Linked DNA regions of Homo sapiens. The protein of the gene in region 3 purifies or fractionates together with the protein of the main gene of each other region. This does not show direct contact. Each region holds a gene or a part of one and is shown on either strand. Other genes may lie near its edges. The genes, in order: EDC3, DCP1A and PPP1R35.

Region 1 (3,652 bases), on a different chromosome or scaffold from region 3:
TTCAGTCAAGAACTTGCTACCAAAGTTCATTTAGTCTTATTTGTCTTCCTTCTCCCTCCATTTCTTTTTTTTTTTTCTTTTTTTGAGACGGAGTCTCGCTCTTTCGCCCAGGCCGGACTGCAGTGGCACTATCTCAGCTCACTGCAAGCTCCGCCTCCTGGGTTCACACCATCCTCCCGCCTCAGCCTCCTGAGTAGCTGGGACTACAGGTGCCCGCCACCGCGCCCGGCTAATTTTTTGTATTTTTAGTGGAGATGGGGTTTCACCGTGTTAGCCAGGATGGTCTCGATCTCCTGACCTCATGATCCGCCCGCCTCGGCCTCCCAAAGTGCTGGGATTACAGGCGTGAGCCACTGCGCCCGGCCCTGCCTCCATTTCTTAAACACCTCCAGGTAAGAATACTTTAATTCATTTACCACTTTGTTCTTATACAAATAAACAAGTTGCCAATTACAAATCTAGCTACTTTGGAATATCCTTCATCTCATTAATACATTACTAGTGTAAGTTTGCTGACAGGATTTGATGTACAATAAAAAAAAATACATCTTCCCTGTAAAGCCTATTCATGACAATAAATCCTTCAAACAATTCCACTTCTAAAAAAAACTAATTTTTCTGTGTAGTATTCAACAATGTTAAATATTTCAAAAAAATGCAATGTTTGTGCAGCTAGCTAACCAACACTTATTTTGCCAACTTGTTATTAAAATCTATCCTAACAATCTGTGTAGCTAGGAAGGGAGCCACAGATGTGACATAATCAAGATTTTCCAGATTACTTTTAATTATGGGACTATTTTGCTCAAATGCTGAACTATCAGGATTTCCAGACTACTGAATGCCAGATAAGTAATGGGACTTTATCATTATTCTGATAAGCCTTTGGATAACAAAGTCAGGTAGCGCTAAACACTCTTCCATCTATTATATTACTAAGGCAGCGCCCAAATGATCCATAAATTACAAATAAACAAGTTGCCAATTACAAATCTAGCTACCTCCATCTCTGTGCCACATCAGACAACTCACAGCATTCAGATCCAATAAACAACCCTTGGCCTGCTAAAAACAATTATAATTAACAGCTGTGGATGAGTGAGTAGTTATAGATTTCTGAAAAACTAGGAATTGTTCCACACAACAGGAAAGGTGTTTGTTTAATCAAAATATTGGGAAAGGCAGAGATCTTAAAAGAAAATATGCAACCCAGCATGATGGCTCAGGCCCTACATCCCAGCACTTTGGGAGGCTGAGGCAGGAGGATCACTTGAGGCCAGGAGTTTCAGACCAGCCTGGACAACATAGCAAGACTGTTTCCACCCCCACCCCGCCTCAGAAAAAGAAATCCAGCACAATCCCCTATCTAAATCCAGTACTAAACCCATATCTTCCATAAAAGGCAGCACGGTGAAAAGAGAATAAAATTCTGAAATCACACTGGGTGTGGTGGCTCACGCCTCAGGTGGCTAGTGTCTGCAATCCTAGCACTGTGGGAGGCCAAGGAGGGCTGACCGCTTGAGCCTAGGAGTTCAAAGCCAGCCTGGGCAACATGGCAAAACTCTGTCTCTAGAAAAAATACAAAAAATTAGTCAGAAGTGTTGGGAGGCGGAGGTTGCAGTGAGCCAAGATTGCACCACTGCACTCCAGCCTGGGTGGCAGAGCAAGACCCTGTCTCAAAAAAAAAAAAAAAGAAAAAAATGAAATCAGACATCACAGCCCCTGGTTCACTTCTGAACTTCCTTACTAACCAGCACTACGACCTGGGCAAATTACCTAATCTGAGTCTCAACTGCCTCATCTGTAGGGAATTATGCCAATTATACACCTATCTCATAGAACCACTATATGAATTATTTTAAGATACTATATGGATTATTTTAAGATACTATATGGATTATTTTAAGATTAAATGAGATAATCCATATAGTGTCTACAACATAAAAAATTTTAGTTCAAATGTCTCCTTTTGCCAGAAAGAATACCGATCACATAGGGAACTTAAGTTATGGCGCTGTGAGGGCCACCTCACTTCTCACCCAAACAAAATTACAAAAATACATGAATTCCCTCTACAACATCTTGGAAATCAAGTCCTGGTCTTTACACTGGAATACACATGTCCGTAGGGGGTACACAAAGATATGCAAGCAAGGGAATCAACTTCCATGCTACTCTCATAAACCTGATCTGTGTGGATAACTAGATGATCAATTTTAAATTTTCAGGCATAAAATTTATTACTTTAGGATGGGTAGGAAAACTACAGCCCTAAACCAGATCTGGTCTGCTACCAATAAAGTTTTATTGGAACACAACTACACAAAAATACTTGCATATTATCTACGGCTATTTTCTGGGTTTTTTTGGGTTTTTTTGAGACAGTCTTGCTCTGTCGTCCAGGCTGGAGTGCAGTGGAGCGATCTCGGCTCACTGCAACCTCCACCTCCCGGGTTCAAGCGATTCTCCTGCCTCAGCCTCCCAAGTAGCTGGGACTACAGGCGCCCACCAACACGCCCGGCTAATTTTTTTTGTATTTTTTAGTAGAGGCGGGGTTTCACTGTGTTAGCCAGGATGGTCTCGATCTCCTGACCTCGTGATCCGCCTGCCTCAGTCTCCCAAAGTGATGGGATTACAGGCGTGAGCCACCGCACCCGGCCACATATTGTCTATGGCTGTTTTCTCACTACAGTGAGAATTAAGCAGTAATCACAGAAACCATGTGGCCCATAAAGCCTTTCATCTGGCCTTTGACAGAAAGTTGACTTTTGCTTTAGGATAAAATTCTGTGGGAAAAGTGGAATGGATACAAGTTCAAAAAGAAAAAGGAAAAATATGTAATGGACAAACTCCCAAAATGATAAAAATGACCAAAACTAACTCAACTAACTATATTAAGAAATTGAATTAGTAAAATCTTCCCAGAGAGAAAAACCCAGGCCCATAGGACTTCACTGGTAAATTCTATGAAACACGTAAGAAATAATACCAATCCTACACAAACTATTTCAGAAAACAGAGGAGGAAGGAACACTTCCCAATTCATTTTATGAGGTCATAATTACCCTGCTACTAAGGCCAAAGATGACATAAAAAAAAGGAAACCTCAGACCAATATCCATCATGAACACAGTCACAAAAATTAACAAAATGTTAGCAAATTGAATCCATCTATATGTAAAAAGTAGTAGATACATTACTAAGCAGGGTTCATTTCACAAATGCAAGATGGGTTTAACATCTGAAAATCAAGTAATGTAATAAGCTATGTTATGTATTTCTTACAGTCTTTGTTTCAAAAGTTTAGTTGTATGTTTTTACAACATCAAATTGATATTGTATTTAGGTAATTTTATATTTATTTTTAAGAAGTCAATATTTACTTGTCAGAAATTACATCCTAAACTATTTAAAATTAAATACTTACACTATGTAAATCTAGGATGAAAAGTTTCAGGTGCCAACTTAAAAGTATATAAGATCTAACAGATTCCACAGTCTTTTAGACATTCTCAAGAAGAAATGTTTTAAGACTAGTGACCCAGCCTATACCTGAAAGCCTGAAATGACAAGGAGAAAAATAATCATTCATGCCAAAGCAACACCACCATATCTTCAAACTTTTGACTTCTGCCCATAAATTTACTCTTAG
Region 2 (3,652 bases), on a different chromosome or scaffold from region 3:
GGGAGGATTGCTTAAGGCCAGGAGTTCAAGACCATCCTGGCCTGATATAGCAAGACTCATCTCTGTTTAATTAAAAAAAAAAAAAAAAAAAAAAGGGAAGAAGAAAAGAAAGTGATTAGAGAAGCCAGGCACAGTGGTGTGTACCTGTCATTTCAGCTATAATACTTGTGAGGCCCAGGTGGGCAGATCACTTGGGCCCCAGGAGTTCAAGATCAATCTGGGCAACATAGTGAGATCCCATCTCAAAAAAAAAAAGTGATTAGAGAATACCCTGGTGAAACTGTTGATAATGAGTTTTAAGTGTCTGGCCTATTTATAGCTGAAGAGAATATTGTATGTTACCATTAACTTTGTGATAAATGCCTCTCTGGTCACCAAAACTAAAGAAGACTATCTGTCTTTGTTCTAAATCTGCCTGCATAAACCTGTTTGTTACTTTTTGTTGTTGTTGTTTGCTACATATTTGAGAATATCACCTCTACTATCCAAAAATACTAGCACAGTTCTTGTTAGTATATTATACATATAAATAAATGTGTCCATCAGTGCCCATTCTTTTAAATACAGTTCTTCCCATCACTATTTGACAGCCACAATATAATAAAGATCCTCCAAGTAAAAAAACTGATTTACTCCAGGCTGGGCGCGGTGGCTCACGCCTGTAATCCCAGCGCTTTGGGAGGCCAAGACAGGCGTATCACGAGGTCAGGAGATCGAGACCATCCTGGCCAATATGGTGAAACCTCGTCTCTAGTAAAAATACAAAAAAATTAGCGGGGCATGGTGGCGGGCACCTGTAGTCCCAGCTACTCAGGAGGCTGAGGCAGAAGAATGGCGTGAACCCGGGAAGCGGAGCTTTCAGTGAGCCAAGATCGTGCCACTGCACTCCAGCCTGGGCGACAGAGCGAGACTCCGTCTCAAAAAAAAAAAAAACAAAAAAAAAAAACAACAAACTGATTTACTCCAAACAATGTTTATAAAAACGAGAAACTATGTAGGAAAATGAGTGAGCTTCTAGACCCTATGTCATCTAAATTTGTATATTCTCTGGTCAGTGGTGGCAGAGTTGAAAACCCACTAAACTTAGAAGCTGTTGACTCTCCTAAAGAGGAAATCCAGTCTGCCAGAAACTCTTTTTTTTTTTTTTTTTTTTTTTGAGACAGAGTCTTGCTCTGTCACCCAGGAATGTGGTGGCGTGATCTGGGTTCACTGTAACCTCCGCCCTCCTGGGTTCAAGCAGTTCTCCTGCCTCAGCCTCCCGAGTAGCTGGGATTACAAGTGCCTGCCACTGCACCCAGCTAATTTTTGTATTTTTAGTAGAGACAGGGTTTCACCATCTTGACCTGGCTGACCTTGAACTCCTGACCTCATGATCCACCCACCTTGGCCTCCCAAAGTGCTGGGATTACAGGCGTGAGCCACCACACCCGGCCTCAGAAACTCTTTTTAACAATAAAAAGTTGTTTGACGGTTTGGCCACATAGACTATGTAAACTTTGGAGAACTCATGGAAGTAAGCTTTATTCCTGATCTTACAGACATCTTAGGGGTAGGTTTTGGTGTTTGAAAGGAAAGGAGAATGGCATGAGTGCTATCCATAAAGTTTGGATTAGAAGAGGCCTTAGAGTCCAAGCCTCGTTTATGTGAGAGTCCCTTCCATTACCACCCCCGACAGCTTCTGCTTTCAGCAGTGGTGAGCTTTATAAAATTACCTGTTCTGGCTGGGCGCAGTGGCTCACGCCTGTAATCCCAGCACTTTGGGAGGCTGAGGTGGTCAGATCACTTGAGGTCAGGAGTTCAAGACCAGCCTAGTCAACATGGTGAAACCCTGTCTTTATTAAAAATACAAAAATTAGCCGGGCATGATAGTGCATACCTGTAATCCCAGCTACTAGGGAGGCTGAGGCACGAGAATCGCTTGAACCCGGGAGTCGAAGGTTGCAGTAAGCCGAGATCGCACCACTGCACTCTAGCCCGGGTGACAGAGTAAGGCTCTGTCTCAAAAAAAAAAAAAAAAAAAAAAGAAAAAGAAAAGAAATATTCTTCTCTTAAACCAAAATAATCACAGAATCACAGATCCTAGTCTGGGTCAGGGAAGAGTTAAATACCAGCATGGCCAAGTCAGGCAACATGTCAGGAGGTAGGTGGAAAACAGGCCGTGTGACAGATCCTTTATGAAGATGGATTCAGGCTGATGTGGCCTATATTTGAGCATTAAATAAACAATTCATGTTTGGTCTTATTCTCATATCCCATACCAGTCTTTCAGTCTACCATGAAGCTCATGATGCTACATTTGTTTTAGAAGTAATAGTCTTATTAAGAGCTATAATTATGAATCTAGATAGAAAAACTACATGTTACCTTAAAGCCACATTTTCCAAACAGGAATTCTACCTCAGAGTAAAATTCTATAGTCAAATAAAATTTGAGAAAATCTATAGGCCTGCCCTTCTTGGAGAATCACAATAAATTTTAGCATGCTTAAAAATCAACTGGCCAGTTGTGGTGGCTCATGTCTATAATCCCGGCACTTTGGGAGGCTGAGGTGGGAGGATTGCTTGAGGCCAGGAGTTTGAGACCAGCCTGGGCAACATGGTGAGACCTTGTCTGTACAATAAAAAAATAAATAAAACAAACAAACAAAAATTCAATGGGTGGGTTGTGGTAATTCATGCCTTTAATCCCAGTATTTTGGGAGGCTGAGGCAGGAGGATCACTTGAGACTAGGAGTTTTGGGACCAGCCAGGGCAACATATCAAACTCCATCTCTACAAAAATAATAATAAAACTCAAGGATTCTGTTTTTTCTTTTTTTTTAAGTCGGTTTAATATTGTTTAACCCAGTATTTTTAAATAAAAAAGCCATCTCTGTTCACCTCTTCCCCACACTCTAATGAGAGCTCCTGTGCAGGCTGGGTTTTTTGTTTTTTAAAACAGGGTTTCACTATGTTGCCTGGGCTGGTCTCAAACTCCTGGGCTCAAGTGATCGTCCTGCCTCAGCCTCACAAAGTGCTAGGATTATAGGCATGAGCACTGTGCCTGGCCTGAATGAATCTTAAAAAAAACAAAAAAAGTTGCTTTATTAAAATTTATTATTCAAGCTTGAAAGCTTGAAGAAAAATATAGGAAATAATAAAATATGTATGTGCTTACCACCCAGCTTTCAGTTCCTAATATTTTGCTGTAATTGTTTCAGATCTTTCTTTACAAGGGAGAAGGGGGTGTTCTTAAAAACTGAAAGCCCACTTAGTGATTTTTTTTTTTTTTTGGAGTCAAGGTCTCACTCTGTTACCCAGGCTGGAGTGCAGTAGTGTGATCTCAGTTCACTGCAGCCTCTACCTCCCAGACTCAAGCAGTCCTCCCACCTCAGCCTTCCAAATAGCTGGGACTACAGGCGTGTACCACTACGCCCAGCTAATTTTTGTATTTTTTGTAGAGACGGGGTTTTGCCAAGTTGCCCAGGCTAAGTTGGTGGTTTTTAAAAGGGAGAATAAGGGAAACCTTTTATTTGCTTATAGTGTTACTAACTTTTAAGGATTCACCAAGACCTCTATTTTCAAGAACTGACTTTGTCCTTGCTAGCCCAGTGTCAATCCAAACTTTCCACAGAGGATTTGTTCAACTATGCAGCCTTCCTGTGTCTTGGTGG
Region 3 (3,323 bases):
TCAGACTTACAGGCAATTAACAACATGAAGCTCTTCGGGGGCTTGTTAGGTGTTACTGGAACTTCGAACATACTGAGTATTCAGGTCAGGTGTAAACAGGATGGGCAAGGCTCTTAAAGGTAAAAAGCAAGGAGATAATTTCAGTAACTCAGTGCAGACAGCTGGCTTGCAAGCTCCTTGAGACAGGTAATCATGGAAGGTTTTCGTGAAGTGTGATAGGCTGGGCTCTGCATTTTGAGAGATCAGAATAAGTGATGCAGAGAACAATCGCTACCTGATCAAAAACAGGCAGTAGCTGTGGCTGAAGTCAGGGAGAGGCAGGTAAGGTTGTGAACGGAGGGGTATCTAAGTAAACCTCTAACGTGGACAGTGTTTTCCACTTGCCATGACTCTACCAAGTTCCAAAAAGGCCCCCAAACCCGACTTCCAGGCAGCTTCCAACCTGAGGCTAAGTGGATAACCCCCTAGAGAGCTTTTAACCCCATTTTAGGCCTCCAAGAAGAGTCCCATTTATTAGCAAAATTACTTTATTCTAACAAATAGTTTAACACAAAAATACGAACTAGCCCTCCAGGGATCTTTGGGGTCTACGCTTCCCATCGCCTCAGTGTCCGGTGCATGAGGAAGGTGTCCTCTGAAGGGCGGGGCCGGAGTTGAAGTCGGAGAGGGGGCAGACCGTCCAGGGTCAGGTGTGGAGATTCATAAAATAGCGTTTCTGGGTCACACAAGATGGTCATGTCTGGCCCAGGCCCAGGTGGCTCCTGTTGGGAGGTTGGGCCCAAAGCAAGGTTACACTTTGGGAGGAAGGATCCGGGTAAGGGGGTACATGGAGGAAGCCCCACGCCCAGACCCCATCACCTTTGGGTGCGGGGCTCGAGCCTGTGGCGGCAGGAGAGCCAATTTCTCCCTGAGCGCGGCATTCAGAACCTGTTCCTCCGGCACCTGCAGGCTCACCAGGTCCCGGAAGAGCCGCTTGGAGCGCGGCACGTTCAGCCCTGAGAGCGCAGCGGGGACGGAGGTGAGTGGCGCGCCTCACCCCGACTCCCGCACGCGGCCGGCCGCCCGCCCCCCTCACCCTCGGACACGCTCTCCTCCAGGCCGCAGCGGATCTGGAACGACTTTCTCAGCTGTTCCTCCACGGCCTTCGCAGCATCAAAGTGGCTCCCGGCTGCGGCCCGCAGCTCCAGGCCCAAGGCCAGGCTGCTCTTCAGCACGGGCATCTCCAGCTCCTGCGGCACCGCAGGCTGCGGCTCGGACCGCACCGGGGAGGGCGGCGTCAGGCGGAAGCGGACCTGGGAGCAGAGGGCAGGGCAGTGACCAGGTGGGCGCGAGGCCGTCGCGGGCCGGGGGCCAGCCTCCCCCGCTCACCTGCCGCCGCTGCCGAGCCGCGCCCCGCCGCTCCGCCCGCCCCTTCCGCCGCCCGGGGCTGCCGTGCCGCGGCTGAGGGCTGTCGGGCCGCGGGCTCAGGCTCAAGTCCAGGCCGGGCTCGGGCACTGGGGCTCGGAGTTGCGGGACTTGGGGCTCCGGGGGTGGCCCCGGGACCGCCGCGGCTTCTTCCCCGTCCGCCGACTTCAGCTCTGACTCCCCACAACCCATCATCATCTTTGGAGGTGCCTTGAGGGTGCGGGGATGCGGGGGTCGCAGACGCTCCAACGGTCAGGGGACACAGCCTGGCTGCCGCCTCCTTTCCCCCGCCCCTCCTAGACGCCGCTACCGGAAACCGTTAACCCTTTCCTTCGGGGGCGGAGTCAGCAGCCCCACCCACCCTGTTGTCGCTCCCAGGCGTCATTTCCCTCGCTCCGTCCCCAGGTTTCCGGCAGGCTTCCGCACTCACAGCCTTGGCACCGCCCCCAAGCCGAAGTGTTGGAAGCACTCACAGCCTTGGCACCGCCCCCAAGCCGAAGTGTTTTTGAGCTGGGGTCGGTTGAAGCCCTACGGGTCCTCATCAGGGCCACTCCTCCTCTTGAAAACTCTGCTATGGCTGAGTTACCCAGAGGAATCTTAGTCCTGCTAGCGCTGCGATGCCCATTGCCCAGTGTGTCAGTCCTCATTCTGGGGCGCCAAATGGGGCAGCATTTTTTTTTTTTTTTGAGACTGAGCCTCTCTCTGTAGCCCAGGCTGGAGTGCAGGGGCGCGATTTCGGCTCACTGCAACCTCCGCCTCCCAGGTTCAAGAGATTCTCCTGCCTCAGCCTCCTGAGTAGCTGGGATTACAGGCGCGCGCCATCACGCCCGGCTAATTTTTGTATTTTTAGTAGAGACGGTTTCACCATGTTGGTCAGGCTGGTCTCGAACTCCTGACCTCGTGATCCGCCCACCTCGGCCTCCCAAAGTGCTGGGATTACAGGCATGAGCCACCGCACCTGGCCATAAATGGGGCAGCTTTAAGGTAACGGTCCAGTGTGCCCTGACCTCCCACTCAGACCTGCACAGCATTTCCGGTGTTCCGTTGCCTCCAAACTCGGACCGGAGTTGGCCTGTATGAGTGCGGGCGAGGGTCGCCGACCCCATCCCGGACTCCCTTCTGGGACACAGCAACTCTTGCAGCTTTTTGTGACTACTTTTACCTTCGAGAGTTCCCTGAAATATTAATTTGTATAAAAAGTAGATATCTGGCACGGGTGCGGTAGCGCATACCTGCAATTCCAACTCTGGGAGGCCAAGGCGGGAAGATGTCTTGAAACCCTGAGCTGGAGACAAGCATGGGCAACATACCGAGACTCCACACCACCATTCCCAATCTCTACCAAAAGAATTTAATTTTAGCCGGGCGTGGTGGTGGTGCTCACCTGTAGTCCCAGCTACTGGGAAGGCTGAGGCGGGAGGATCACTTGAGTCCAGGAGTTCCAGGCTGCAATGAGCTCTGATCATACCACTGCGCTCTAGCCTGGGCGACAGAGCAAGACCCTGTCTCAGAAACAAACAAAAAACTCTGTATTGTGGGTTCAATGTTTTATTTTGTTTTTTGAGACGGAGTCTCGCTCTGGTGCCCAGGCTGGAGACTGTGGCACAATCTCAGCTCACTGCAACGTCTGCCTCCAGTGTTCAAGCAATTCTCCCACCTTAGCCTCCCAAGTAGGTGGGATTACAGGCGCCTACCACCACACCCGGCTAATTTTTTTTGTATTTTTAGTAGAGACAGGGTTTCACCGTGTTGGCCTCGAACTCCTGACCTCAAGTGGTTCAGCTGCCTTGGCCTCCCAAAGTGCTATGATTACAGGCAGTAGCCACTGCACCCAGCCTTGAATTCAGTTTTTTTAATTTTTAATGTCAGTGGACTTATCCTGGGCCCTGAGCTTTTCCACATAGCAGAAGACCCCTGAA

The links.
Region 1: the proteins of PPP1R35 (region 3) and EDC3 purify together in Homo sapiens (affinity purification with mass spectrometry; one large-scale study listed by BioGRID and IntAct). This does not show direct contact.
Region 2: the proteins of PPP1R35 (region 3) and DCP1A purify together in Homo sapiens (affinity purification with mass spectrometry; one large-scale study listed by BioGRID and IntAct). This does not show direct contact.

The regions. Positions count from the first base shown.
Region 1 is NC_000015.10:74,689,459-74,693,110, forward strand, and holds part of EDC3 (enhancer of mRNA-decapping protein 3), read right to left. Parts: intron 3,561-3,652; exon of another isoform or gene 3,428-3,560; intron 1-3,427. UniProt on the Homo sapiens protein: Binds single-stranded RNA. Involved in the process of mRNA degradation and in the positive regulation of mRNA decapping. May play a role in spermiogenesis and oogenesis.
Region 2 is NC_000003.12:53,313,039-53,316,690, reverse strand, and holds part of DCP1A (mRNA-decapping enzyme 1A), read left to right. Parts: intron 1-3,652. UniProt on the Homo sapiens protein: Necessary for the degradation of mRNAs, both in normal mRNA turnover and in nonsense-mediated mRNA decay. Removes the 7-methyl guanine cap structure from mRNA molecules, yielding a 5'-phosphorylated mRNA fragment and 7m-GDP.
Region 3 is NC_000007.14:100,434,773-100,438,095, forward strand, and holds PPP1R35 (protein phosphatase 1 regulatory subunit 35), read right to left. Parts: upstream 1,726-3,323; 5' UTR 1,603-1,725; coding exon 1,369-1,602; intron 1,293-1,368; coding exon 1,076-1,292; intron 996-1,075; coding exon 859-995; intron 762-858; coding exon 588-761; 3' UTR 510-587; downstream 1-509.